Homo sapiens: one gene and its partners. The protein of the gene in region 4 purifies or fractionates together with the protein of the main gene of each other region. This does not show direct contact. Each region holds a gene or a part of one and is shown on either strand. Other genes may lie near its edges.

Region 1 (7,149 bases), on a different chromosome or scaffold from region 4:
TAATTGTTATAAAAGGTCTATGGGGAAGTGGGGAGTTGGACAATTAGAATGCTTCCTAAGTTATCTTCCTCATGCATATAATCATTATTTTCTCCAACTATGGTTTCATGACATTAGGCATACTTACATTGAAATGTAAATACAAAATAAAAACTAAATACAGTTAATTATCACCGTGATTATTTTCTTTTATTAGCATTACCTAGAATTAGTTGTGAATGCACATCCACCTATAGAAGCCCCAGGTAAATTTAAAAAAGAAAACCCACTAAACCATTATAATTTTATAGTAGAGTTCCATGTAACTATTATATAATCTTTCTATATATCAAACTTTTTTTTCCATTGTGACTAAATAATGTAGCAATCCCTATAAGATATGTTGTTCCTATATAGAACACCTTGTTAAAAAAAAATAGGGGAATGTTTCAAGTTTGAATGATGCAGTTCTGGAAAAAACAACAGGAAAAAATCAAAATACGTATAGAAAATTAGGAAACTTACCCTTATTGCCTCATGACAAACTAAAGATACCATTCAATCATGTTTGAATATCTTCTCTCTGATCAATAGTGTTTGTCCAAGGTGTATGAGGAGACAAGAGACTCCACCCTCTAAGAGTTCATACTCTCCTTAGAGGGAGAATGAAACCTAATTGCTAACATCAATATATGTACAAATCAAAGTCACAGAAAAGTGACAGAGACTGGGAAGCCACAGTCTGAGGTGGGACTTGAGTGTCAAAACCTTGGGTGAGAATTTGGAAGTGCAGAAGAAAAAAAAGGCAGGACATCTCAAGCGGGGGGATATCCTGAAATGAATGCCCCAGTGGGTAAACAGGATAGAATCCTATTGAGCAATATGAGAAAATAAATAAGTCTGATCAGAAAGCAGCTAGACAATAGACAGCCTCGAAAGCCATGCTAAAAATTTTGGATCCCCATGTGAAAATAAACGCATAGTCAAATCACACTCAAAGAAGGCAAGTGGGTCAGTAAGGACAAGTGACTGATGGTTGTGGGCAGTAGGAGGTGATGGAAGGCCCAGGTAATGGTGAAAATGAGTCATTTAGTACCACTGGTGAAGAAGTGATGTGGGACTACACCAAGACATCAGGAGGTGAATGGAAAGACTCAGGCAAGGGAAGAAGGTCTTCATGAAGGACATAGTGATCAATTAGGAATAGATTAGATATAAAGGGTAAAAAAGTGAATTCCACAACACCAAAATCTGTCTTCGAAGACTGAGGCAAATGGGGATGTCAGATCTGAGTTAGGAAGTTGAGCTGGGAACTCTAAGCTCTTGAGAGTATAGAAGAAATCACAATTAGAAATACAGCTTTTTGAATCATCTATATATAAATAAAAATCCAGTCTATGGGCATGAATAACTACACCAAAGGAGTGAGAATAGAGAAGAGGAGAGGTGCTGGGACAAAAGATGTTAATAAAAATGCCAGGAAGGAAGAAGAGGCACAACCAAAGATCAGATGGGGAGTTACCATTACAGATGAGAAAGGAGAAGGAACTCTCAAGGAGCAGGGAAGAAGCATGGAGCAAAGGAGGAGATTACTGAGGACTACAGAAAGACTACTTAAAGGTAATTTCAGTGGGATCAAGGTTCAGCATTCCCAGAACATGAGGCAGGTGGTGAGCTATAGTTCCAAAACTTGTTCTAGGCAAGAAGCTTTAGTTTTAACATCAAATTCCCCAGACTGGATTGTCATTTTGACTTCCAAAGGTTACTTGGGACTCTACCAAGTTATGAGCTGTAAAATGCTACTACCTATAGGGCTATGCTTCAGGGGCAGAATGAGAACTAAACAGTAGAAATATATGTGTAATAGATTTGCAAACTACAATAAAGCTGTATGACTCTAACACTTTACTAGGGGAAACCAAGTATTATCTCTAATATAAGATTAGTATCAGAGATGGTTAACTATAACATTTTCCCACCAATATTCCTAGTAAACTTCAGCCCTGCCCTGGCAAGACGCTCCCTATTTTGGACATTGAGGATCACAGGCATGTGGGGGTTTTTTGTTTGTTTTAATTAAATTCATTCTCAGATCAATACCATGGTTTCCTGCTATAACACACCCAGTTTACATAAAGCCCAGATATGACACTGAAACACTATTCTTTCCTTCTTGAGCTTATTTTGCCTCCATTGTTTTTCCCTTCCTTCTCCCCATCTTGTCCTTATCCCCTGCTTCTAAACTACTTCCCCTTCCAGTTTCTCTCTTACTTTATCTCCATTAAGATACATTCTCACAAATGTCTACAAAGTATTTTCAAAACCAACAGTCAGTGATTAGCATGAATATTACTTAAAACAGTTTTACTCTTGGCCTTTATCCATACATTTCACCGTTCTTCCCTCCTTTTGAATAGACAGGCAAACCTGTTTGACTAGTTTTCCCCTAAGAGCTACTCCCCAGATTGGCTTGGTGAGAACAACTCAATAGGGACAGCAGCACAAATGCAAAATCTATGTAAAACACAAAGGCCTTCTTCATAAAGAGAACCCAGAGGAAGGGCCTGCTGTGGAGCCCCTAGACTAACTGCCTAGTCTTAGGCCTAAGACTAACTGCCTAGTCTTAGAACAGCTCTCTCAAAGCAGGAAGACACCACCACTGAATCACTCATTCCGTTGCTAGTAAAAAATTTTTATTTAAGTAAAATTGAATTCTTCCTGTTGATGCCTCTCCTCTGAATAATGAATATTATGAGGATGAGGGAGAATCAGATTAAGACTTAAGTGTAGAAGTTTAAAAAATTCCAACAGATGAGACTATATTCAAGATGTGTTACAGAAGTGTGTCCAAGTTTTTTGTTGTTGTTGTTGTTGTGTGTGTATCTGCTTAATTAAACCCATTAAAAATTCTGAATTTGCAAAACAGGTATTAATAAAATCAGAATAGGATTTTTTCTATGGTAAATTGTATGTTGATATTGCTTTAAATTTCAAAGTCCCTGAGTATATTTAATATATAATGTGCTTTAATGTCACTAACCACAATTTTTTTCTGTAAACTATTTCTAACATACAGAAAAATATAAAGATTAACATAACAAACATCTGTATGCCCATCACTTAATATTTAAGAAGTGTTAAATGTTTGCCCTATTTTCTTATTCTATAAATATGACTCAACTTATAAAAGCTGAGTTTATATACAGCTTTTCAAGAACCTATTACAGAACATATAGCATATTTGCACACTTGATTCTACTTTGTAAATTCATGTGCACATTATTTAAACTTGATGTTTCACTTGGAAGAAAATTAGCCCCACAGTTTTTACTCATTAAAGCAAGTTATAGCTTAATGTAATAACTAAAAAGTCATGATTTGGTGTCTTGAAATATTTTGAGTATTAAATTTCTTCAAAACAATTAAAAAGTACAAAATGATTTCACAAATATTTTGTTATATAATATTCCCAAATCAAGCACATATTTACCAAATCAGATACGAATGTAAATTTCTTTAATGAACTGGATTCCTTGCAGATGCATTTCTGTTATTTATATCAAGTCAATGGAAATAAATTATATCTTCAAAATAAAATCAATATAGTGATTATTCCAAATTAACAATTCAGATAAATAGTACAATGCTACAAGGAAACAGTATCTCTGAAATGTTCCTACTATACATCTTTCCATCTAATCTAAATGTTTTAATATTTACATAAATGTCCATCCAGAGAATACGAACTGACCTACACTGTCCTAGATGCCCTGCCATTCATAAACCAAAGGTACCATTTTTATTTTGGCTATGCACTCCTAAACACTTACCTAAGTGTGGCATTCTGTATAAGTCAATTTCAACTTGGCATCTGTTATCTCTGTAAGGGAGTGCTGAGCATGACAATATATAGTCTAAAACTGACTTGGTGAATATACAACATGGAACTAGAAGAAATCCTAAACTGAAAATCACCTGCTTAGATTACTATGCTTTACAAATAACAGGGCCATAAATCGTGAAGGACTAAGCACAGTGGGAAAAAAAAAAGCACTGAAACACAACTGCAAAATAGAGAAGTGCTGAAAACGAAAAGTATGGCTAGCGATTTTCAGGTAAAGAATATGATTAAATATTAAAACTACAGATATAAAATTCATTTCATCTTAAAAATATGGAATATCTAATTTTGTTTTATTCAACAAACATGTATTGGGACAACAAATATTTATTATATGCCTTATAACCAATTAGTAAACAATATGTACTATGTGCAATTGTTGGTTGACTTCCAAACCACTGCATAGATGTAAACATTTTCTCAAATTATGCAGTAATTACAGAGTAAAAAACTTATACACATATTAAAATAGAAATCTAATTTAAAATGTTTATTAATCTCTAATATAAAGCATCACTTCATCCAAACAGAAAATCCTAGGAAAAAAGTAGGTATATTTAAATATTACCATAGTAGTCTTAATTGGGGGAAAAAAAAAAAAAAAGCAAACAAACCTCTACAAATCAGTCCTTCCCCTATTACACAGGCTAATAATTATTTTTCACATGTTGATTTTTAAGACCCTATGAGGTATAGAGGTGCCTTTGGAATCATCAAATATTAAATTACATTTTGTTAAATTTTGAAATCATCTGTATTGTTTTCTGAGTTTATTTTCAGCTAATACTAAAATGTATAATCAATGTCCTTATAGATTATCTAAGGAACTAGAACACACTTAAAATACTAAGAGTACTTTAAACAAGACATTAGAAACCTGGAGGTTTAATTACCAGGTGCTTTTTAAACACAATGCATATGCCACCAGACCCTCCTGACTGGCGGAAGCATGGATTGTCCTGAGAAACCCAACATCTCTGCAACGCTCTTGAGGCAACTTCCACTCTCTCTTCAAGGACTTTTGTTCAGTTGGCTCCCTCTGCTCCCTTCAAAACTTTCAATGGCTGCTATTCTACTGGCCTCTAACCAAAAAAGTTAAAAGTATGATCAAATTTTCATCTTAAAAATATATTTTCAATCACTCTCTGTGAATTCTGAGAGCGAGTACTTGTGAAAGCAAAAATGACTACGGACCTTCTAATCACAAATCCAAGTCCTGGTTTCCATAAAACAGGTAGCATTTGTTAAACACAAAGGAGTAACCTCCCAGGCATTGTGCTTGATAGATTTTATCTCATCTGATCCTCACAGTAGCCCTATAAAGTAGGTGCTTCTCCCCTCATTTGCTAAATGAGGAAATGAAACTAAATTGTGAGCTCAAGGTCACAGAGCTATTCGGGGCTCGAGAGGGGGTGGGAACCGAGACTGTCTAACACCCCCTCATTTCAGTACCTGACCTTCTCACTTTCTGAAATTTTCTCAGTTTTCAGCTGCTTTTAAAAGTTACACCCTCCTAACTCTCCTCTTGCCTCTCTTGTTCTGTACCTTCTCGTTTTTCTTTATTGCTTCCTATTTCTCTACCCAACTCTTAAATTTTAGGATCTCCCCAGGCCTCTGTTTCCCTATTAACTTTTGGTACTTGCCCTGGAAAACCTATCAACTTTCACGGTTTATAATTACCTATACACTGAAAACTCCTAAATGTTTCTGTGTGTCTATCCATTTATCTACCTACCATTTATCTACCTGCCTATCTAGCCCAGGACCTCTGTGCTCAGAACTCACATACAATGATTCACTGGACACACATCTCCAGTTCGATTTTCTATAAGCACTTCAAGTTCTACATGTCTAAAACTGAACTCTATCACTCTTGCTCTCAAATCTGGATCTCCTTTTAAGTTCCCATCCCATCCTCCTATACCACCCACTCCCAATCCTCCAACCAAATTGGTCACCTAATCTTAGAGGTTCTACCACCTGAATATCGTTGTAACCAAACCCCTTTTTTTCATCCCACTGCCAACACTTTGGTACAAGGACCTCAACCTCTCTTACCAAAGCCACCCCAATATCTTCTAAACTACCATCCAAATCTCACATTCCTCAGATCCATCCTTCTAGATTGCTTGCTGTAAGAGCTGTTTTCTCATCACATAGCTCCTCTGTTTAAAACAACCTTAAACTGAAAATAGTCCATACTCCTGAGAATGGCAAACAGCCCTCCATGATCTTGCTCCTGCCTCCAGTGATTCATCTTTTATGTCACCCTCTAAGAAACCCTCAAATCTCCTGTCCCCACACAGAATTGACCACTTCCAAATTTCTGCTCAGGGTACTGTGTGTGTATCTCTATCACGGCACTTACAGAACAGCCAGCACTATACTGTAGATATTGAAAATAGCCTGTTTCCTCCTTGTCTCCCCCTTTTAAACCTAGAGCCCTCCCAGGGCCTTAATTGTATGCACATCCCCAGAGCACAGTGCTTGGCACACAGTATGCTTTTAACAAATATTTGTTGAATAAAAGAATGAATGTTTGTGAAATGCTTCAGATTAAGGAGATATGATTACCACTGTTTTCAAGATCAAATTAAACCATTTTAATCATATGTATTTGATTATGTACCTCCTCCATAAGTAGATTTGCAAAATAATATTTAAATAATTCATGTAGCCTCAAGTATGGTTAGCAGGATTCTCAAATCATACTTCTTATTCTGGACTTCCGGGGTAGAAAAATATTAACTACACTACATTATAGTTAGTAAGTTTCAATGGCAGAAAGTAATATGTAAAATATTCTAGTATACATATTCCTAAACAAAGACGATCTGGGCCTATCATAAGAAAGTAAACTTTTTTTTAAAGGCTGCTTCAGTTTCTCAGAAACACCAAGATATTCCAGAAGACTGAATTGTCTGAAATTAATACACCCTCCTAAAGATCTCATACACAAATTTTTTCTATAAAAGGTACATTAAAACCTTTTATATAGAGGTCACCCTTCTGGAAACCTAAACATTTCAGTTCACAGTCCAAACCACAAATAAAGCACGTAAACTGAAAGTGTCTGTCACAAAGTCTACAGGATTTACACTCGGGCAATAGCCCACATCATTTGATGGAAAAAAAGACAACAGATAATAGAGCAGCAGGGCCCACTCACAGTCTGACAGCAGCAGAAAGTGATAGCCAATAACAGAAAGAGGACCCAGAAAAAAAAAAAAAACATAAAAAGAAGAATGGTACTTCTGTCTCTATTCTAG
Region 2 (7,399 bases), on a different chromosome or scaffold from region 4:
TTTCACCGTATTAGCCAGGATGGTCTGGATCTCCTGACCTCGTGATCCCACCGCTTTGGCCTCCCAAAGTGCTGGGATTACAGGGGTGAGCCACCACGCCCGGCCTCTATTTTTTTAAACAGTAAAATCTTCTAAAATATTACTCCAAGATTTGACACTGAAATGAAAAAGTTTTTGCAAATGCAGAAATTCATAAAATCAGAGCAGTGGAACATAAATTTGATATTAGTAAAGCAACTTTTGTTATCAGAAGAATTACTTCATTTTCCTATATTCTTGCAGAGCAACAATTGAGACACTTATGGAACCTAAGAAAGCTATACATACACACACAAATGAAGTCTATTATGTTTTGCTATTGAGAAACACACAAAAGAATTGTAAGGCACTGGAAAAGTTGCCAAATCTCTTGAAATGGATAAAAGGAATTCCAAAGCAATGAAAGGTTGGTGTCATCAATTCATTTGTTTTGAAGGACTATCATTAAGATGTCAAACATCTTTTTGTCAAAAACTTCTGCTGATGTTGAGCAGAAGGCTATATGGAGCACCCTTTAAGAAATGCTGTGTTACCAATGTTTCTAATGGTCAGAGGATAATATTGTGTGACAAATCCAGAAATCAGCAACTCTAAGTCTAAAAATAGTAAAAAAACAAAAAAACAAAAAAAAAACAAAAAACGAAAGAGTTGGGCTTTGAATGTGAAGATATCTAAGGAATGCCTTATCCTGTTCATTTCACTTATATTTTTTCTTTTTAAGTGTGCACACAGGGATAGATGAGTTGGGAATGAACCTAGACTTAGAGTGCAGTAGTACCCTGGCCACAATGACTGGCCAATCAGTATGAGGATCTGGGTTTTGTTCACTCCTTAGTCTAACTGCCCCTTCCCCATGTTGGATCCTAGGAATCATCCTATGACCATAGGGAGAACCATCCTTAATATGAAGCCAACACATGGATAATGGCAGAGAAGCAAGAGAACCTCGACTGTTGATGACATCATGAAACCACAGGATCACCTCAAGGCAACTGGAATTGGGTTTTCTGTTAACTTGCAAATCAAAGCTTCCTAACTGAATAAAGACTCAGTTAATGTTAGTTGGTAGTGCATGCAATGATGGTTGAGGACACTTGAGACAATCCTGCTTTCTCAACCTGGGGGCAGAATAATACCACCATCTAGCCCTCAGTCAGCCATCGGTTCACCTGGTAAACCATTGGCCACATTTATGGAAGGTTTTAGAAAGAGGTCCCTATTGACTTTGCTTTGCTTTGAGACACACTGTGGAAGTATAGGATTTTTTATGCTTAAAACAAATAAGAAAGAGCTGAATTCAGGGATATTGGCATATAGAGAAAATATTTGAAGCTGATCTATGCACATCTATTTTTGAGATTCACATACAAGTCTTGTTCTTGATTTCGCTTTTACCCATCCACAGAATGGTAACCTGGGCCTGACATATTGAAGTGAAGTATCAGTTTTTGCTCTATTTTCATCTTGATGCTAGCTGCTTCCTGACTGTTCCCAGCGAGCCCAGACACCACAGGGCCATAAGCTTAAAAAGATCATGTTACTTCAGTCACTGCTGAGTAGCAGACGAAGCTGAAGCCAGCTGAATCTAGAAGTGCTATGACGCTGAAAAAGTCAGGAGTCTTTACCCAGATCTGCCTCCTGCAAGCAGTGTTTTCTGCCTGCCCTATGGGACTTGTGAGGGACAGAAAAGTTTCCCAGCCCCTGTCAAGATGGTAACATTATCTAAAGTTATCACAAAGCTTCTAGTCAACCTTAATTTCTACCACCTGAAATTCAGAACCTAAGGCTATTTTACAATCTTTACAAAATTTAAATTATTTTTCTCTTAAAAGCTGGGCAGGTTGGTGGGTTTTCTTGGTTTATTCTTCAGGTTTTTTGTTTTGGTTTGGTTTTTGGTTTTAGTCCTTGAGCTTTGTAAATAAGTTTTCCTGCGCCTGCTTGCCTGTAACTTATTTTTCTGGTCTAATGACTGTTTTTTAATGAGTTCAGCCTGTGCTTTCTTGTACAAAAAGAAACGTGGGCATGTGAGGAGCATATTAATTAGCTATCAGATGTAGCCTGGTTTTTGAAGTCCAGATCTTCAGGATGTTACCGAAGTGTAAATATAAGCATGACTTTTGCACGTGATTAGTAATTACATCACAGTTAAAGCCTCAGGGGACCTTCCACCCCAGAATTCTGCTATCCTCAACCCCTGAATGGCTCTGTCATTAATGGTCAGTCTCCAAGAACTCATTTCCCAAGGAAATGACTTCCTGTTTTGTTCTAAGTGGCCTTCCCTGCAAACCCTCCTCACCTTTGAACTTCCTATTTTGGGATGGAAAGATTGACCCTTCTCCCGCTCCTCTTCACAAGGTAAGGAGAAACAAGGGAGAAGAAAGAAAGGTCCTCTGGAGAGAGATATATGTATCATACATATCTTATACATATATCATATATATCTTATATATCTCATATATATCTTATATATATCTTATATATCATATATATATATATATATATATATATATATATAAAACTACACCCGCATTGCACCAAAGTATACGAAATATTTTCTGGCCTTCAAATCATATGCCTAACTCCTGCAGGAAAACTGCATGGGCACTCAGGCTGATCTCCCTTACCCCACAACTTAGATCCACCTCTCACGTTTTCTAAGTTTATTTCCACGCTGTCCCTGGGCCAGGCTCTAGGGTCCCAGAGGTGAAGTGGAGGAATTCACAGTTTGGTTGAGGAGAGACCCCCTTGAATAGATCAAGCTCCCCAAGTGTTGCTGTAAGTTTACATGGAACATGGAGTCTGAGTGGGAAGTCAGGGAGGTGAATCACGGAAGCCTTTGGACTTTGTACACCTGTGGGCAGCTCCCAGATGAAGGGGGGAAGGTGTTGCAGGCAAATGACCACCTTTGACGGGCGGACATCGGCCTGCTTTGCCACTTCACCTTATGCTGCCCTGTGACTGGTCTTTGCACTGTGTCACCGATATGTCTTTTTTTTTTTTTTTTGAGACGGAATCTCACTCTGTCACCCAGGCTGGAGTGTAGTGGCACCATCTCGGCTCACTGCAACCTCCACCTCCGGGGTTCAAGCTATTCTCCTGCCTCAGCCTCTTGAGTAGCTGGGACTACGGGTGCGCGCCACCACACCCGGCTAATTTTTGTATTTTTAGTAGAGACGAGGTTTTGCCATGTTGGTCAGGCTGGTCTCGAACTCCTGCCCTCAAGTGATCTGCCCGCCTTGGCTTCCCAAAGTGTTGGGATTACAGGCATGAGACACCGAGCCCGGCCAACCACTAATATGTATCGTGAGTCAGCTCTGCTGTCTCTGAAAGTCCAACCTCCTACTTTTTGTTTTTTGTTGTTAAGACAGGGTCTTTTTTTTGTTTTTTAAAGACAGGCTGGAGTGCAGTGGCGCGATCTGGGCTCACTGCAACCTCCGCCTCCCGGGTTCAAGCGATCCTCCCACCTCAGCTCCAGAGTAGCTGGAAATACAGGCACGCGCCACTATGCCTGGCTAGTTTTTGTTTTTTACGTAGAGATGGAGTCTTACTATGGTGCCCAGACTGGTCTTGAACTCCTGGGCTCAAGCGATCCTCCCAAAGCCCTGAGATTACAGGCGTGAGCCAGCGCGCCGGACACAACCTCCTACTTTCATGAAAGAGTGGGCACTTCCAACAGGAGGAGTAAGTGGATGAGCGGTGTGTGACACACCCGCCTCAGCGTCGCCCGGAGTCCGCAAGGCTGCGGCTCACCGTTCTCTGCCCCATAGCTGGCATTGTGGAGTGAAAGGGAACGTGGGTGGAGGATTGAGGTTGGAAATTCTGAATCTGTACATACAGCTTGAAGGGGCTCATCGAATGTGTCGGTCCTTTAGATTCCCCCTGCCCATGGAGGTTAAAAAAAAAAAAAAAACCTATCAAAAGAGCTATTCAAAACCAGGCTGAAGATTGGAAGGAAGTTGGCCAGCCTCGGCTGCAGGACAGGTGCTTCCAGGCTCCATTAGGGGTGTCCAGCGCCTTCTTTTGCCCTAGGCAGCGCCCTGAAGAACGCGTCGGGGCCTCGGTTCGCGGACTTGAGGAGTGGACCGACCGAGCGCTGTGCGTAAAAGGACCGCTGGGGCACACGCCCGAGCGCCACCGGAGCTAGGAGACCGCGGCCCGGAGGTCGGCGAGTCGGGGGCAGGCCCGGAGCTCCTCCCACGGGGGGCGGGGCGGGTCACATGGCGGTGGCGCGGTAGCGCGCGATGCAGCACAGGCTAGAGGCTGCGCAAGCGCGGGGCCCGCCCCTGGGACCCTCCGGGCCGGGCGGTTTGGCCCCTTAGCGCCCGGGCGTCGGGGCGGTAAAAGGCCGGCAGAAGGGAGGCACTTGAGGTAGGTGCTGCGCGCCGGGGCTCCGCGAGGCACGTGATGTCCGTAGGCGGGGCCTGCCGCGGCGTAGGTGGGGAAACTGAGGCAGTGCAGGGCCGGTAGGGTGGGTGCTGGGCTGGTGAGGCGCGCCCCTCGGGCCCGCGCCAACTTTCTTAGGAGCCGCCGCAGCGCTGGCGCTCCCTCCGAGGACGACGACCCTTCCGCCACCCTGCGTGGCGGCCGATGGAAAAACCCTGCGCCCAGACGTCGGAGAACGGAGACGGGGACCCGGCGCTGCTGCGGCGGGCTAGGGCCCCCTCTGTCCACGCCCGCAAGCCTTGAGTGACGCCGGTGGCGCCAACCTTCGCGAATTGTTGGGACAAAGAACAGAGGAGAGGGCCCTGCCCTGGAGCATGGGCCCGGGGGCCGCCCTGCTGGACCAGCCCCAGGTGCGGACCTGGCAGTCCTCGTCCTCGTCTCTGTGCCCGCTTAGGGTCGTGTCTTTTAAGAGGGCACGGTTTCTAGCGTTGTTCAGCGTTTCGGAGGCACCTGTTCCCCCTCTTTCCCAAGAGTCACAAACGCCTGACTTTAAATTGGGTAGAGCCCAGTTGTAAACTTAACAGCCCTGCTGAGGTCTAGGAATGAAAAGATGAACAATCTGCCCCCAGGGTTGTTGCTGGAGCGGGAGGTGAAGGCGCAGGTGGAGATGGTTAGAGGCAAAGGAAGGGAAGTCAAGGCCCAGCCGGTCCAGGGCTGTGGGAAGGAGGCACACCCGGGAGTCCACTGCCGGACCGGGGTTCCCAGCTGCTCCTGCGCCTCTTTTCCTTGCCACATCATGCTGTCTGCACAGCCCAGCAACCCAGAACTCAGCTTTTTTGTTTGTTTTATTTTAATGTATTTTCCTTTGAACCTGGCAGGTGGTTTTTCAAAAAGAAAATAATCAAGATTTGTTTTGAAAAGCATTGTGAAAAAGTCAGCTTGAATAGTCTTGAATGCTCCTGCTCGGGCCCAGCTTTGGAGAATGAGGATTGGGATTTCCACTGCAGACCCCGACTCGTTACCATACTCATTCATCAGAAAACTCTTCATTTTGTGTACAAATAACGTTTTGAGGGTAATCATTGCTCTAGAAATGAAGAATTATACATCGTATTTATTGCACTTTTTGTAAGGTACCTCACAAGGCACCTCCTATACATTTAATCCTTTGATTCTTGCAACTCTGTAGAAGGTAATTAAGGAAGCATTCCCATTTTACTGATGCAAAACAGTTCCTTGTCCAGGTTTATACAGCTTGCAAGAATTAAAGTTAGATATTATTCTTGGTGTGGGCCTTTCCTATATCCCCGTCTTTTATAAGAGCATGTCATTTAGTTGAGACCTTCTGCATTACTTCTGAAGGGGTACAAAAGACATTTCTGATGATTTTCTCATCTCGTGTCATTTAAATGGTGCTCAGAAAGTTTGGATAGGACTGGAACTCTAGGGCTCAAGCCCCAGGCTCTGTCCCTATCTAAGCAATAGGGCAGCTGTCCTGCCAGTTGGGTTCTTGCTTCTTTGTGAAATGTTGAGCAGAAGCTCCAAGTCTCTCTGCTGTGGCTTGTGTGGCAAGAACCATCCTGAGGTTCTGTGCAGAGAGCCAGCCTCACCTTTGAGCTCAGTGGCCTCTGGCACAGGGAAATTACAGCTGGGCAGTGTCCTTTGCCTTCTCTGGCACTGCTAGTGCAGGAGGCAGTGTTAGCTGCTACAGGAATAGCATGGAGCGGGCCTGCAGGCCAGAGGGGCTGAGACAAGCCAGTGTTCCCACCAGACCTAGAACGTTCACCAGAAAGCAGGCCTGCAGTGACACAGCTGCAGAAGTTCACTATTTTGTGCCTGTCCTGCTTCAGATATCCTGTCTTTATAGGGGCACGAGTGAATCTGAGCCCTGCAAAAGAGAGAAAGATAATGCTGCTTTGCCGTTTTCTAGTGCGTTACCGCATTAAAAATTGCTCTTCTTATATAATCTTTATGACAACTCTTTAAAGTGCCCTTGTTTTTAAGAAGACACTGAGGTTCAGAGGGATAAAATAACTCTCAGAGTCAAAGAGAGAAAACCCAGGATTATTGGCTTTTAGCCCAGTGTCTTCTGTGGTATTGCCTTGCCTTCCTATCCACACCCATATAACTTGATGAAGCCGGAGTTCTGAGCCCAGACAGGAGGCTGTGCAAGTGAGATTAGAATGGCTTGCTCTTTGAGGGGTGGGGGGCCCTACAGCTTGAGGAAACAAGAGGACATAATCAGCTACTGGGAAACCCTGAGATACGCCCAAGAGTGAGGAATGTGGGGGCTGGTGCTGCTTTCAGCATCTATTCAGAGGTTTCTGAATCTGGCATTTGAGAGTAGGACTGGGCCAGAACCAGGCAGATACACACCCCAAGGAGCAGGGCTGAGAGTTGGAGACTGAGGCAGGTAGGTGAGAGCTCATTGCAAGTGACTGATTTTGTGGTATATGAAGACAAGGGTGGGTGGAAGGGCATCTGTTGCTCATAAGGCTCTGTGTGCCTGCATCATCAGTATGCTAGACAAGGATGGACAGAGTCTTGTTATTGTGGGGAAGAGAGGTGCAGAATGGCTTCTCAGCGGAGACTAGGCAATGAGACCCTTAAGACATTTGGCTTCAGATTATAAGCTGCTTACCAAGGATTGGGCTTGGGAGAGGCTGATGATGTTCTCTCCAGGCAGCAGATTTCCCAGGCCCTGTTTACGGGCAGTCTTGCTCTTAGCTTGCCTGAGGCCAGTGAACAGGCTTCAAGACCTGCAGGGCCCCACTTCCTGAGCCCAGACTGCCATGCTATTCCAGCCTTAGAGGCCACTGGCCCTTGGCTGGCTGCCCAGGACCTAGCGTGTCTGATGCAGGATAAACAGTCATGGACTGGAAGTTGGGAGACCCAAACCTGAGTCCCAGTGCAGCCACTGACAACCTGCCCTGCCCATGTGACCTTGGACTAGCCAGCTCCTTCTCTGAGCTTTAGT
Region 3 (7,306 bases), on a different chromosome or scaffold from region 4:
TGCCTGCTGCCAAGTCCCTTTCTTTCCCCCACAGTGTGTCTTATAAGCCGGCATGTAGTTTATTCTTCTCCTAAACACTTCCATAGGGTGCAGGGCCTGGAGTTGCCATAGAAACACCTTTTAACTCCTCCTCCCCCAGAATGCCATGCCAGGCCCTAGGACTTTGGGGAAAAAAGACAAAAAGAGACACCTGTGGATGAGCAGAGACAGGAGGAAAGGCCATCGGGCAGCCCCCCGGAGAGGACCAGGCCAGGCCTCCTGTGCCTTTTGCTAGGCCAACATGGCACCAAGCCATGAAGAGAAAACCACCATGATGGTTTTAAAACAGGAAGTTGATGGGCTGATGTGAACACCTTTAGGGGGCTACAAAGTTGACTGGTGGGGTTGTGTGGGTCCCAAGGAATGGGGAGCTCCTTCATATTTGTTTGAGGGCGAGAATAGACAGTTTCAACCCAGACTGGAAACCAGAAAGGCTCTGAGCAATGAAACTTGGGAGCCAAGTACTGGACGCCAGCAGGGTGCTGTGCAAGGCGAGGGAGGTCGGCAGGCAAGCAGCTCACACCCACACCTCCCATTTTAAAAGCATTAGCTCATCCCTGCCACTAGTGCAGCTCACCAAACCCAGGCAGAACAATTTGGGATCCGTGCCAGAGCATCGAAGATTTTTTGTTTCTTTTTTTCTTTTTGATTCCACAATCTCCTGGTCTTTGGCTACTTCCTGGTAACTTAGATTTTCTCTGAGAAATTTATGAAGAGGAGCGAGGGAGCTATTTCTTGTTTCAATCCAGAGAAATTGTAAGAAACTTTCTGCATTGCTCAGACCCACCGCAGGAAACCTAAGCAGTAAGCAGACGGGAAGGCCCCCATTGGAAGCAGGATCTACTCATGCTTGTTTTCACTTTTCCGTGGTCAATTTTTAGGGTAGAAACCCCAAAGCAAAGGGCAAGGGGGAAGAATGGGGACCTACTCCCACTACATACCAAAAAAACGCAAGTGAAGTCACCCAGCCCATTTTCCAGCAGAAAAGGACTTGGGCTGCACCCCTGCACACCCTGATTCCACCTGCCAGCCTCCTGGCCGCACGTGTGTGATCCTGCTGGGCAAAACCAGAACTCAGCTGCAGCAGCAACTCCCCACACTAATCAGGTGGGAATGTTACCAACTGGGATGAGGAGGGAAAGGGTAAGTGGAATGTGGGTGGAGGTGGAGGAGGGAGGAAAACCCTCCCCAGTCTTCAGGCTGCCCAAAAGGATCTTTCTAAGCAATCCACAAATCCTGGGCCAGCTGGGTTCCCCCAGGAGAGGGGAGGATGTACCATGCAGGCCCCAGGGAGCCTCTTACAAGGGTGACCTCAGGTCACACAAACACCCTCAGCTGCCAACTGCACTGACATTCTGGTCACCACACCCCCACTCTGACCTCTAGGCTCAGCCCAGCCCACCAGCAGTGCCCCTCCCGGCCCTCACTGCCTCCCCTGCCAAGCTCCTACCTCCTCCCCCTCCTCACCACAACACGCTGGTAGAGTCCCTCACCCAAGACTCAGTGGAAAATTTCCTTCTCCTTTATGACTGTACTTAAAACACACACGCTCCATTCTTCACCTCTGAATCGACACAGGCAGAGGGCGGCAAGGCTGTCCCACCCCACCGCCCAGCCCAGCCCAGTGCACACACACACACTCTCCCAGCAGAGCCACTGGACTTGCACGCTTTATGGGCTGGAAAGGAGGAGAGAGATGTTTCCCAGATGCCACTCCACCTTTAGCCATCCAAACACAAGTGTCCCAAACACTCCCAGACAAGCCTCCCAGGATGCTCTCGGGGCCCTCCATACACACTAAGGAGTAGGAGGTCTCTTTACAGGGTCTCTCTACTCAAGACACTAAGTCCAGTCTGGAACTGTCACCGTGATGTGACCCTTGGCAGGTTTGTTCTTTTGGTGACAAATCTGTTTTCCACTACCCATTCTCCCCCTCCCCACACACATTCAAGGGGGAAAAAAATAGCCTTCCTGTGAATTTTCACAGCTATGTGGTGAGTGACCCCTCGCACCTTCTGCTGGCTATCAACACTCTCAAACACAGTGCCTCCAGGGCGTGGGTCAATGCCACAGCTTTCTCCTCATTTTCCCCCTTAAATCCACCCAAACTTGGCAGTCCCAGAAGCTCGGTTAGCGCTTGCCTGGGAAGCCTGCAGCTGGGTTGGGTCTCAGTGAAAAGAATGAATTTCATAGGCGCAGGAGATGATGCAGACTCGGAGTACTCCAAGTTTCTCCTGCAACTTTCCGTGCACATGGCGGGCAACTTTTTTTTTTTTTTTTAACTATTCAATTTCCCAGCACTTTAGTTAGCATTCCAAGTTTTGGGAACCCTTTCCCCACCCTTCTCTTCTAGCCCTTCCTCCGTTAGTAGTGAATGGGGACATTTTCCAGATGTCAAAAGGACCGGTAGGAACCTCACGACCTAAGTTAGGAAAGCAAAGGCGGCCAGGGGCTCCCTCAGCCACTGTGAGTTTCCTCTGCAGGGCATCTTCCCCTCTCAGCTATGCCAGCGCCCCCGCCCAAGGACATCGAGTTTCTCCACTCCGCCCCAACCCCGTCTGCCCCTCTCCTGGGGCAGAGGAAAGGAGTGGGGCTCGCCCTGCCTCCCTAAGCAGCGCTGCAGTCCTGGCTGCAGCGTGGGGCTCGGGCGGGGCACCAGGAGCGCTTACCGATGTCGGAGTTGCAGAAGGCGTCCTGGGGGTGGCTGGGCGAGCATGTGCACGCCTCGGCGCCCCAGTCCCCCAGGCTCCAGCTGCCCAGGAGCACGATGAGCCCGAGCCAAGGGGTCATTGCCGCTGCTGCCGCCGCTGCCGGGGCTGCTGCTCGCCTCTCCAAAGTTGCCGTGCGCGCCGCCGGCGGGGCTGCTGCAGCCCGAGCTCGCTCGCCCGCCGGGCCGTGCGGGGCAACCTTGGCCTCCGGCGCGCTGCCCTCCGAGTGCCCGGCGGGACGGGATGGGGCGCAGCGAGGCTGCCTCGGCGCTGGCGCAGGACTCGGCGGGCGGCCTCCCGGCGAAGGAGCAGGAGCTGGAGGAGCAAGAGGAGGAGGAGAAGCCGTCTGAGCGCCCGCCGCCTGCCTGCTGCCCGCTCTGCGCCGCTGCCTGGGCGGCCGAGTGATATAGCGCTGGGCCCCCGGGGACCCCGCCTCGGGCTGTTGGGGCCCGCCCCCTCAGACCAATGGCAGAGCCGCATTACCTCATCGGCCCTCCAAAAAGGGGGCGGGGCCGGGGGCAAGGGGTAACGGGGCGGGGCCGCCCCCGGATCGTTCAGATCCTTATAGGGAATAATGCCGCCGTGGGCACGCGAGTGGGTGGGCTGGGGCGCGCCCGGGACCGGTGCTTGCCGCTGGGTCCTCGGAGCGGAGCCCTCGTGCCCCTTCTCGTCTGCGCCCTGGCCCCACGCCCACCTGGGCCACTGGGTGTCTCTGACCCAAACCAGAACCAACTAACACCCACCCACCCCAGCAGGACCGCTTCCACAGGTGAGGGGTGGCCATGTCCTAGAGACCTTGACTGTGCTTGGTGGAACCAGCGGGGGAATGCTAACTGCTACCCCTCCAGTTTCTCTGGAGAGAGCAGGCACAGAGGAGAAAGACCCAAACTCTCTCTCTTTCTCTCTCTCTCTGGTTCTTACTCTCTGGGATATGGGAAGCCATCTGCTGTTTGCAGCTGGCTATGATATATGATAGAAGACTGTTTTCTGTGCTCTCCCAGAGCAAACGGGGTTCTGTATTCATTCAACAAACACGGTTCAGGATGCTGGGTTAAGCAACACAAAGCCCTTGCCCCCGTGGACATCCATGAATGCACAGGGTGATTTTCTGTGATGCTAGGGCTATGAAGAAAACAAAACAGAGTTCTGGGTTGGACATGACTGGGGAGGGCCTGCTCTCTCTGCGATAGTAAGGGAAGGGCTCCCTGAAGTGCCATCCTCGCTGAGAAGTGGACAAAGACAAGGATCAGCTCTGGGGCAAGCCACAGGAGAGAGGTACCAGGCAGGGGGAACAGCAAGTGCAAAGACCCTGGGCATGTTTGAAAGACAGAAAGTAGAAAGGCAAGAGGAAGTGGTTCCCTGCCCATGGCTGACAGAGCTCCACCCTTCAGCAAGGGATTTGGGGGTGAGCTGATCCAAAACTGTAGTAAAACCAGGAGAACGATCCAGGATCCTAGACGACTAGCTATAATAGATGATTGCAGATAACTAACACAATTACTATCCTTATTATTGACATCTTGATTCTGCTTTGTATTTTTAAAAGCAGGATTCTGTATCTCACCGTATTATAGCTCTCACAATAATCTTTGTGGGTAGGAAAAGCAAGCACAAGTATCACTCCCACTTTCCAGATGAGGAACCGGCACAGAAAGATGGGATGATTGGTGGCCAGCCAGGAACTCGTCACCCCTTTCCACTGCTCCTTCCCATCTGAAGAGAGACATGCATTTCCCTGAACGTCAGCAGCTGTTCCATCTAACTGCAAATGGCCATTTGCAGCTGGGATCTTCCATCTTTCTACACTTTTGTCTCTTTCCCTTTCTCTTCCGCTTCATCCTGTTAGAAATGCCACAAGTTTGGAACAAATAGAAACAGGGAGAAATGCAAGTTCAGCTTCTTTCTCAGAACTCCTCTGTTTACATCTCAGACAAGTGACATTGGGACAGCAGAGGCCGAAGAATTCGTGAGAGATGGTATTTCCAAGAACATTTTTGAAACTCCTTTTTCCCCTTTGAGCACTTTAGCCATAGGAAAGGGAAACCAGTTTCCACATCTTTTTGACTTGTCCCCTCCACCCAGCTTTAAAAACCTTCCCTGCCTTCACTCTAACTGTGGCCTAACTCGTAGAGATGTTTCTGTCTCTCGATGTTTTTCTAGCACTGTTTTCATTGTTTTATGGGGTATGATTCTATTGCTTCCCCAACCACAGTAGGAATACTTTGAGGCCTGGGATATTTAGCCACACTGCTTTTTAGCCCTCTCAGAACCAAATAGGGTCTCAGGAGACTGGAGAGCATGGGTGTGGCCAACAGCTGACTGAGTCCTGAGCAGAGTGCCCTGGAGGCCACTCTAAGGATCCAGGTTGAATGAGGGCATACGTGGTGGAATTTGAGAGATTCGCTTATCCCCGCGCCCCACATGACTTATTCCACAGTCATGTGGAAGGTTTTAGAAGACTTTCCAGACCAAATCCACTTTGGATAAGCATCTTACATGATAGAGGCCCTCTCTTCCCTTTCTTTTCACATTTCAGTTTTGTCCAAAGTGCCGATATTTTCTCCAACGGAAGGCCTTGCCTGGAATATAAGTATCAAGTAGATAACTTCTGCTGAACTTCAAGCAGCAGTTTTCTCATAGAAAGCATCTGAAGCGTTTTTTTCCAGCAGCTACTTAATTATGAAAGCACAAGTATAATCTGATCTTTTTTCCAGCTGAAAAGTAACGAAATTACCTTTTGGTTAATTTCTTCTCACTCCCTATCCTAAGCTGGTCCACACAGTGTCTTGAAGTTCAGCGAATTCCAAGAGCTTTTCAGTTGGGATGTTCTCTCTTATTCCAAACCTGAGTCAGTTCCCCTCTGCCCACCGTGTGAAGGCAGTTTGGTTCTCACCCTAAGGAAAAGAAACAGCAAACTCCATGAATCCTTGCGTAGGGGAGTCCTCCTGCTAGGGTCACCCCCTTCAGCAGGCACCCATCAGTCTGGATGTCATGGTGTCCATGAGCCTAATAATATGTAAGAATTGGTTATTCAACATCACTTAATAAGCTAGGTGGGGTGAACCTGAGGCTAACAGTAAGAATGAAGATGCAGGCTGGGTGCGGTGGCTCACGCCTGTAATCCCAGCACTTTGAGAGGCCAAGGTGGGCGGATCACGAGGTCAGGAGATCGAGACCATCCTGGCTAACATGGTGAAACCCCGTCTGTACTAACAACACAAAAAATTAGCCAGGTGTGGTGGTGGGCGCCTGTAGTCCCAGTTACTTGGGAGGCTGAGGCAGGAGAATGGCGTGAACCTGGGAGGCGGAGCTTGCAGTGAGCTGAGATCATGCCACTGCACTCTAGCCTAGGTGATGGAGTGAGACTCCGTCTCCAAAAAAAAAAAAAAAAAAAAAAAGAATGAAGATGCAGGCTCTCCTGCTTTCTCTTGACAGCTAAGAACAATGATAGAGTTATACATCTGGGAAGAACTGAGTAAGTTTCAAGATCTATCTGGCCTGTCTACACACCTACTAGGATGACCTGGTATTCTCTTTCCTGGAACTTTTCTAGGAAAGGTGAGTTCATATCCACCCTCTTTGTATCAAGTTATAGGATGCTAGAGTCTGTAGGAAGAGAAGTCGTAAAAAGGACCTCAGAAACTACTCATCCTTGTTTTAAATGTGGGAAAAATAAGGTTCAGAGAAGTGAAGGAACTTGCCCATTTTCAGGGCTCAGTCCTCCAAGCTGTAAGGTGTGGCCCATGCTTGTACTGTGGGCTTGGAAACCCCAGCCATTCACAGATCTCGTATCTGCTTTTCAGATCTGTAGACAGATTCGTTTGAGTCTTTGTACAGTGCCCAGCCCACAGAGAAATTTTACTTACACTGATTAAATAATTCTCTACCATGATAATAATCACCCTCTGAGCCAATCAGAAGCAATACAGGTTTGTCCTCCTGACAGGTTTATCTCTTGTGTGTTTATTTTTTTCCCTTCCTAAATTACTAGCTAATGCATTCCAAACATATCACTATAAAAAAAAGCACATGAAAACTTTGTTTCTGGGAAATGAAAAGAGAGTAAAGTGGAAACAAAAAATCAAAAGACCTGAGATTTGTTCCCAATGTTGCAGAATAGCTGTGCACCTGCCTTGGTCAAGTCACTTTGCCTGTCCAGGCGTCCACTTCTGTGTTTATTGGATGAAAGATAGAACTCAGTGGTATCCAGGATCCCTCTCGCCTCAAAAACTCCAAGATTCCATGGGGAATCCTGTAGGACAAGTGAATGCTTCTGAAGGGGAGATGGGTCCTGCCATTTAAACAGGTTTGACACATGGGAACGTACCCAAGACTGAAGACCATCCATCAGTTTCGCAACGAACACTGAGTTCCTATATTGCTACCTCCCCCAAGAATCAATGCCGAAAACAGAATTTCAGAGAAGATTGTGATGCCAAAGTCCTAGGAGAGACAGGCTCTGGCTTATGGTGGAGCCCAGTGTAGTTATGCGTTCACCTGCTTGTTTGTCTCTTGGATCGTAGCACTAAAAAGTTAGGAAGGTGTCTTTTTTATCACCA
Region 4 (7,709 bases):
CGCCAGCCTGGGTGACAGAGTGAGATGCTGTCTCAAACAGAAAACAAAAACTAAACAAGATATCCAATATTAAAAACCTGTCGTTTTTGACTGCCTTTCTTTACTCCACCACATCCAAACTATTATTCAGGTTATCTCTCAAATCTCACCTCTTCTACATCATTGCCGAGTTTGGTTCGGGCTCCTTTCTCCCTTTACACAAACCCTACAATGGCCTCTTAAACCAGTGTCAGGATGTCAAGATATTCCTCCTTATGAATCACATTAAATGGCATTTTGAGTGTGTCTGTGTGACAGAGAGTGTGAATACGAGTGTGTCTCTAGAGAAGTCAAACTACAACCTCAAAATGAGATTCTGATACAAGTACTACACCTGCTCCCCCTCATCCCTCCTATATCCCCCTATCTTTGGGCTAAAAATCCTCTTTGGGTAATAAATGATGAGAAGCAGTGAAACAGTTTAGAACCACTGCTCAAAATCCACCCTTCACATTCCCACCAATTCTCAACAAAGAACTTGTCATCAGTTAACTACTTACAAACCTTTATGGCTTCCCCATAAAAGGCCCTTCACAATCTGGTCCAACCCTTCGTTCTCAGCATCATCTCTTTACAACCCTCTACCATAGGATTCTCGCTCCAAAACAAGGCCGACCTGTTCCCAAACAAACCATGTACTTTTTCACATTTGGTTCTCTTGCCTAGGTGGACCTGTTCCCACTTTGGCTTGAAGAAATCTCATTTATTTAGTGTCTGTCCTATGAAAGTCACTGTAGTAAAATATATTTTCCAAGATGGTGGCAATAAGATGCCCCATTCCAAATGTTCTTTTCACAATGTGACACTGATGCTCCTCCCATCAAGGTTTGTTCTATGTCCCCTCCCTTAAAACCAGGTGGACCTGTGACTCTGGTAGAAGAGTTCCTATGTGCTTCTAAGGTAAGGTCGTAAAAGGCATTAAGGCTTCTGCCTGGTCCTCGTGGGTTGTTCCTCTTCTAACCATAATTGTTATGGATTGAATTGTCCACCCCCCACCAATTCATATGCTGAAACCCTAATTCCCAATGTGACTATATTTGGACGTAGGGCCTTTAAGGAAGTAGTTAAGGTTAAATAAGGTCATACGGGTGAGCCCTATTCCAAAAGGACCTAGTGTCCACATAAGAAGAATAAGAGGCACCAGGAGTGTACATGCGCAGACTAACTGAAAAGCCAGCTGGCTGCAAGCTAGGAAGAGAGGCCACATCGGAAGCCAATCCTGCCAACACCTTGATCTTGGACTATCAGCCTCCAGATCCACGAGAAAACAGATTTGTTGTTTAATCCACCTAATTTGTGGTATTCTGTTCTAGCAGCCCAAATGACTGATACAATAATATGTTTCCAACAAGTGAGACAGGGGCCTTGCTTCACCCATCTCTGTATCTTAAGAACCTAGCACAGACCTGACACTAACCATGTAGTTGGTGAATATCTGCTGAATGAACGCGCATAAAGCAAGGAAGGACAATTTAATCCCAGCACTTTGGGAGGCCAAGATGGGAGGCTGGCTTGAGCTCAGGAGTTCGAGACCAGCCTGGGCAATATAGCAAGACCTCGACTCTACTAAAAAAAATAAAATAAATAAAAAATTGGCTGGGCGTGGTGGTGCTTGCCTGTCGTCCCAGCTACTCCAGAGGCTGAGGCAGAAGGATCTCTTGAGCTCGGGAGTTCGAGGCTGCAGTGAGCAGTGATTGCACCACTGCACTCCAGCCTAGGCGACAGAGAGAGAGACCCTGTGTCCAAAAAAAAAAAAAAAAAAAAACCCCAAAATTATAGCTAATATCGAATGCTTTTTAAAGCAGGCACTATGCTAGAGAGATTACATGAATGATGTCATTTAATCTTCAGGCCAAGTTTGCTCTACTTTACCCCTCCCGGCCCCAACACTCCACAGAAAGTAGTGAGCTACATGGTAGAGGGCCTGCTTTTATGTGGTGGTTATACATAACTCTGAGATTACGGCAAGAAAGTCAAATCGAACTGAGACAGGGACTAAAGTTAGTGTTTACAGTATCAATACTATAAAGAAAATAATTACATTCCCAAGGAAAAGTACAAAGAAAGGAGGTAGTGTCATTTGGAAGAACCTTAAATATGCAGTGTCACTGAAGTCAGGGGAAGAAAAGAATTTCACGGAGAAGGGCGTGTTCAATGCGTGGAAGGCTGCAGAGTAGATAATGAAGATTCAAAAAGGCAAATCTGAGAGGAGTTGCAGTACAGTCGTGTGGTTTCTAGACTACACGGCGTTTCGAAAGTGGGTAAAGGCAGACATCACGCGTCTTCAAGAAGTTCAGAAGAAAGAGGAAGAGTGTTGTCATAGTGGGTAAGGTCAAGTATCTTTGATTGCAAAACAACAGTCGCCAGAAGAGAAGGGGCTAAAAGTTGGAACGAGGAAGAAGGCTCGGAGAAAGGTGTCAGACAAAGCGGGATTAGCAAGAAGCTGTTAGGGCTGGTCCTACCGGGATGAGAGAAAGGCGCAGAGGCCAGCCGAGTGGAAAGAGCAGCGGTGACGAACCGGGTTCCACTCAGACGTCCGACACTTCTCGCCAAGGGGCCAGCGCGGACAGCAGCGCCTCCCGGGGACCTCTGAGAAGCCCTGTTTCTGCGCGGCTCCGCCCGACCTCCAAGGCCGACCTCGGAGGCTCAGAGACCCAGGCCCCGTTGGCACTCACCCCACTGCCACGCGGCGCCAGCGCCGGACTGGCCGCACGATAAGCGCGTCCCAGGCTGCCGCCAACCGGCCCTCGGGGGAGACGGGTCCCGGGGGCGCAGGCGCGGGCCCCAGACACAGCGAGCTCCAGAGAGAGCGCAGCGCCGAGCCTGGCAGCTCTGGCTCCAGCAGGAAGACGCAGCCCACGGCCAGCGCCAGGAAGCCCGCGTACGCGGAGCCGCGCCACAGCGCCATGGGGACCCAGGCGCCGCACCTGCGCGAACCAACTCCTTTCCTAGCCCGCGCCTCTTCCGGGCTCGGCGCGCGCCGATGTCGACACAAGCGCTACGTCACAAGGGTGCGCCACGGGGCCCCCCAAGGGGCGGGGCGACGGGCGGCGCCAGGACGGAGCGAGGGGGGACCCCACGCCTCAGTCCCAGGCCTGGCACTGCGGTGTTGCCGCCCCGGAGGAGGTGGGACAACGGCGGTTGTGCCAGTCCGGGCGCTGCACCCCCTTCCCGGAACTCTAATCGTATCCCCAAATAGAGGGATGGGAACACATTTGCTTTCGCAGTAAAACGAAACGGACAGATTGTGAAGAAGCGGACAAACCTCGCGTTAATATTCGAACCAGTGGGTGTCCCCATTGGCACGGATCACACCCCCATCTTTTAATCCCTCCCTCCGCCCGTGTCCCCTCATTTGCTAGACTTGTCCTCTTCCAGGCCTAGTGCTCGGCGCTTCTGAGAGGAATAGGCTCACAGAATAGCGGCGCTGCCGAGACCCCTGGGGTACGCGAGGCAGGGGGATTCCGCCCCTTTGGAAGGTGGCCGAGACCCTCAGCCACTAAAGGACTTCGTCGAGACAGGAGAGCCCGCAGAGATCGTTCTCTTCTGGATAACCAGATTATTCCACAATCAAACTTTAACCCTTTTGGGGGCGCTGTTCCCTTTAACAAACTCTGGAAAATGTACACAATCTTGTGCACAACACGAGAGTTATGGACCTGGGTTGAGAAACGCTGCTTTCTTTTGTTCCCCCTTGGTGACATCACTTAAACCCAGCCCTCTCTTCGCTGATACTTTTCTGTGCATGAGGCTAGGTTGAGAGACAGTGAAGCTAGGCTGGGTACCAGCTCATTCTCATCAGCCACAATGCCCGGCCTAGTCTTGTTCCCTGGTTTGTTTCCACTTTTCCAATTCTCTCGGCTCCTGACCTTGGCTTTGTGTCCAGTTTTCCACTGTGACCCTGACCTTTGGACTTGGCAGCGAAACTTTATTTCCCTAACTTTGATCTTGGGCATTAGTCTTCATTCTCCTCAGCCCCACCTCATCAGAACTTCCCCATCCTGGTCATCTACCTTCCCGCAGTTCATCCTACCCAGCCTACCTGACCATGCCATCCCTTTCGACAAAGATATTCACACAGGAACAGATTTGGGCTACCTTGGAAAAGAAGCCAAAGAGCCAGTCAGATCTTTATGAAGCCATGAAAGCCATCTTCCCTAGAGTTGCCTGTCACTTCTCTCTCCTTAGGGAGACATGTCAGTCAGTTCCTAGAGAAACTGCTTCTTCTCACAACCCTCAGCTGTCAGGTTTCCCTGGCACCCAGAGGGGACTGAGCCAGCAGCTGACCTGAAAACAGCGAGTCTGCTGACTGTCCAGCGATCATTTCCCTCTATTGAGAATTTTAACCAAGTTTCTGTTGTCTGTAGTTATTTGATATTGGCTGTGGACCCACAAAGTCACACAAGGCTAAAGGTCAGAACCAGTTAAATATGTTTCCAAGGTGAAGTTTTGGGGAGCACAGGAAGCTGAACTGTGGGAAGGTGATAGAACAGACAGATCTAGAGGACTAGGAGAGTGCTCCACATTAAAGTGATGTGGACAGAAACCTGCCTGGGGCTTTCTTGCTCCCACGAGAGGCTGCTAAACTTCCAGCACTTTGCACCTAATTCTTCTGCTTCTTTCTAGATTTGCCAGAATTGTTGATTTAGTCACAGAGACAAAACAACAGCAGTTGAACAAAGTGGATGTTTATTTCTCATGTAAAAGTCTAAATGGGGTGTTGGCATGTTGTGGGCTGTGGTAGCAAGCTTGGCCCCCTCTGGTTGCTATGGGACCTGCTGTGGGCCTCTTGCTGGTTAGTCACTCAGTGTGGGTTTGCATTGTGGGTGGTGAAGGGGGCCAGACAAGGAAACGAGAGAGCTGACCTCAATTCCAACTGAGAACTGAAGAGTCAGGAGCCGCAGGAGGTGAAGAACAGAACACCAGGGACAGTTGCCAGGCCTGGCGGAGCCTGATGTGGCTTCTGGTCACATACAGAGTCACAGGGCCCTTAATTCCTTCTCATCGGGGCTCAGGGGCAGGCATTCACTGTCTTGGTGCCACAGTCCCTCTTGAAATATTTCCTTAACGAAAATCAGAAAAGATTCTGATCATCTATCTGTTCAGAGAGTCTGGAATCCTTTGCAAGCCAATTGTTTTTCTAGAAGTTAGGTTTCTGGGGACAATTAAAACAGCTCTGAGTGGGCAGCTGTGGCTCCTTTGCCTAGGCTGAACAAAGAGGAAAGGGCTGGGCTGGGCAGGCCTCAAGACACCCCCCGCCCCCACCCAAATTGCTTCCAGACATGGCCTTTCCTATTGGTTCTCTCTCCTAGGACCTTGAAATGAGAGAAGAAAAGCAATTTGGTTCTAGAAAATTCAGAGGCAAATGGAGGCTCCAGGTGCCCCACCCAAGATCCTGACCTGGAAGGCCAGGGAGCAGATCCTGTATGAACACAAAGAATTAGCAGAATCCTGTCAGCTTCCAAATTAGCTGAAGGTTTTGGCTTTAACATAAATACCCATCAGCGTCACCCCCGCAATCTGAAAGGCCTTAAGGGGCACATTTGTTCCCACGTGGAGCAGAAACTAAAGTGGGACCAAATGGTCCCTGTGAAAGCTGGGCTAACCCACTTTCCTTGCAGCTCCAGGCCTCTGGGGTTTCATCCAAGCTGCTCTTTGAAGGCCACACTGTGTCAAAGCCTTTGTTGATGCCAGGGACACAGCCCACCACAGGCCATGCCCAAAGGCCAGAGTCAGAGCACAATTTTGAAGATTACAGAAAACTCCAAAGAGATTGAAGAGATGGAATAAAGGATCCCAGCCCCCGAAAAGAGAAAGCTTTGTGTCTGTAGCCATAGCCCTTGGCAATCAGACATCCTCCTCACTAATGTGAGGTCAGGAGGGGACTAGAAGTGCTCAGAGGATGGACTGCCTCTGGCCAGTGCAGGGGAGAGGCAGGGGTGTTGAGGCACAGGAGCCAGATGAGAGGAACGTCAGCAGCAAAGCAGTAAGAAGAACATGAGAGTTTCTTGATAGTAATAGAACTTCCTACACAGACTGGGAACCGGGTTGTAGCTTGAGGGGATGTGACAACATAGTGGCCCGGAATTTTCACTTTGGAAATTAACTGCTTTGGACCAGGAAGAAGCGCTGAGCCTAGAAAGGCAGGAGGCACAGGACTGTGTGGGCTTCTGTCTGGCAGGGACCTATGAGCTTCATAGGGCGAATGAATCGGGGCAGGATAAAGCAGAGGCCTCCACCCTCACAGTGCTCTTAGCCATCTCAGGCTTCCCGGAACACTGCTACCAGGCTGCCTGCTGGAGCCCTTTACACTCACAGGCCTTCCTGCTTGGGTTCTCTTCTGCAGGCTGCGTAAACCAGTCCTGTTGTAGCCCTTGTAGCATCTGCTGTAGTGATCTGGTTTGGGTTTCAGTATTACTTGCAATGGTTTGGAAGGAAATGGGAAGTTTGCCTTCTAACTACATTTTCTTTTTGATTCAAGAACCCTAGCAGTTCTACAACCACTGGGCCTAAAACTAAAATAAAGGAAAAATAAATAAAAGGAAGCAAAAACATCTAACTGGGATGGCCTGGCAGCATTGCCAGAGAGAGTCCTCAGGGGCCCATGCTTGTTCTGTCTTTTGCTCTGCCATCCCTAGGGTGGACAGCACGGAAGAGGCAGTACATCTTAACAAAATCAGGGTTCTGGATGAAGGGAGGGGTGGTGAATGGTTGCTGCAATCAACAGTTCATACTTCAATGGAAAGAAGGTGGGATTTGATTCCTGGCTGCAAATCTTCACTCTGTCACCTGCTATCTGTGTGCCCTCAGGTAAGTCATTTAACTTTTCTGTTCTTCAGTTTCCTTATATGCAAAATAATTCCTACTTTGCAGAATGGTTGTGGGAGGTAGAGTTATCTTAAGACAGTCTAGCACAGTGTCTGCTACATGCTGGAATTCAAAACATTCCCTGCTGTTGCTATGGTTGGTTCTGAGAGCTATATTTAATTTTCTTTTTAGTCTTTCTTGCTGGTCTGTCACTCTCTTACTATAAGGAAGACAGCCATTTCTGCATAGGTCACTATGCAGTAGCCTTTTCTATTTTTTGACGGCTTAGCATCTATGTAATATCCCACTGAATGAAAATACTAAAATTTATCTATTGTACTATGAATAGACGATTTGGAGTTTTCCCAGTTTTTTTACTATTACATACAGTGTTGCTATGTATATGCTGTGGTACACGTGTATAGCCATTTCTTCAGGGTAGAAACAAAGTAACATTTCTGGGTCATATGATATGCCTGTCTTCAACTTTACTATATAATATCTGACATCTTTCCAAAGTGGTATGCCAGTTTATCTTCCCACTGGCAGCATATGAGAATTTCTGTTGCTCCAGCTACACTCCAACAGATTCTTAAAGCTTTGTCATTTTGTAGGGTGTGTAGTGGTATCTTACTGTGGTTTTGACAAGTTTCCATTTGTTGGTTATTTGCAAGTATCTTGCCTCCCTCCCAGTCACTTGTCTATTCATTCTTTTTATAATATCTTTAGTGAGTAGAGTTCTATGAAAAATTATTCTTATTTATGTATTTTTGTAGAGATAGGGTCTCTCTGTGTTGCCCAGGATGGTTTTGAATTCCTGACCTCGAGAGATCCTCCTGCCTTGGCCTCCCAAGGTGCTAGGA

The links.
Region 1: the proteins of ADPGK (region 4) and UGT8 purify together in Homo sapiens (affinity purification with mass spectrometry; 2 studies listed by BioGRID and IntAct, with this or other methods). This does not show direct contact.
Region 2: the proteins of ADPGK (region 4) and PRXL2A purify together in Homo sapiens (affinity purification with mass spectrometry; 2 studies listed by BioGRID and IntAct, with this or other methods). This does not show direct contact.
Region 3: the proteins of ADPGK (region 4) and TIMP3 purify together in Homo sapiens (affinity purification with mass spectrometry; 2 studies listed by BioGRID and IntAct, with this or other methods). This does not show direct contact.

Annotation. Positions count from the first base shown.
Region 1 is NC_000004.12:114,601,793-114,608,941, reverse strand, and holds part of UGT8 (2-hydroxyacylsphingosine 1-beta-galactosyltransferase precursor), read right to left. Parts: intron 1-7,149. UniProt on the Homo sapiens protein: Catalyzes the transfer of galactose to ceramide, a key enzymatic step in the biosynthesis of galactocerebrosides, which are abundant sphingolipids of the myelin membrane of the central nervous system and peripheral nervous system.
Region 2 is NC_000010.11:80,404,237-80,411,635, forward strand, and holds the start of PRXL2A (peroxiredoxin-like 2A isoform 1 precursor), read left to right. Parts: upstream 1-4,314; 5' UTR 4,315-4,407; exon of another isoform or gene 4,408-4,796; coding exon of another isoform or gene 4,797-4,832; intron 4,833-6,757; exon of another isoform or gene 6,758-6,835; intron 6,836-7,399. UniProt on the Homo sapiens protein: Involved in redox regulation of the cell. Acts as an antioxidant. Inhibits TNFSF11-induced NFKB1 and JUN activation and osteoclast differentiation. May affect bone resorption and help to maintain bone mass.
Region 3 is NC_000022.11:32,797,525-32,804,830, reverse strand, and holds the start of TIMP3 (metalloproteinase inhibitor 3 precursor), read right to left. Parts: upstream 3,127-7,306; 5' UTR 2,830-3,126; coding exon 2,709-2,829; intron 1-2,708.
Region 4 is NC_000015.10:72,780,745-72,788,453, forward strand, and holds the start of ADPGK (ADP-dependent glucokinase isoform 4 precursor), read right to left. Parts: upstream 3,015-7,709; 5' UTR 2,948-3,014; coding exon 2,715-2,947; exon of another isoform or gene 2,091-2,714; intron 1-2,090. UniProt on the Homo sapiens protein: Catalyzes the phosphorylation of D-glucose to D-glucose 6-phosphate using ADP as the phosphate donor. GDP and CDP can replace ADP, but with reduced efficiency.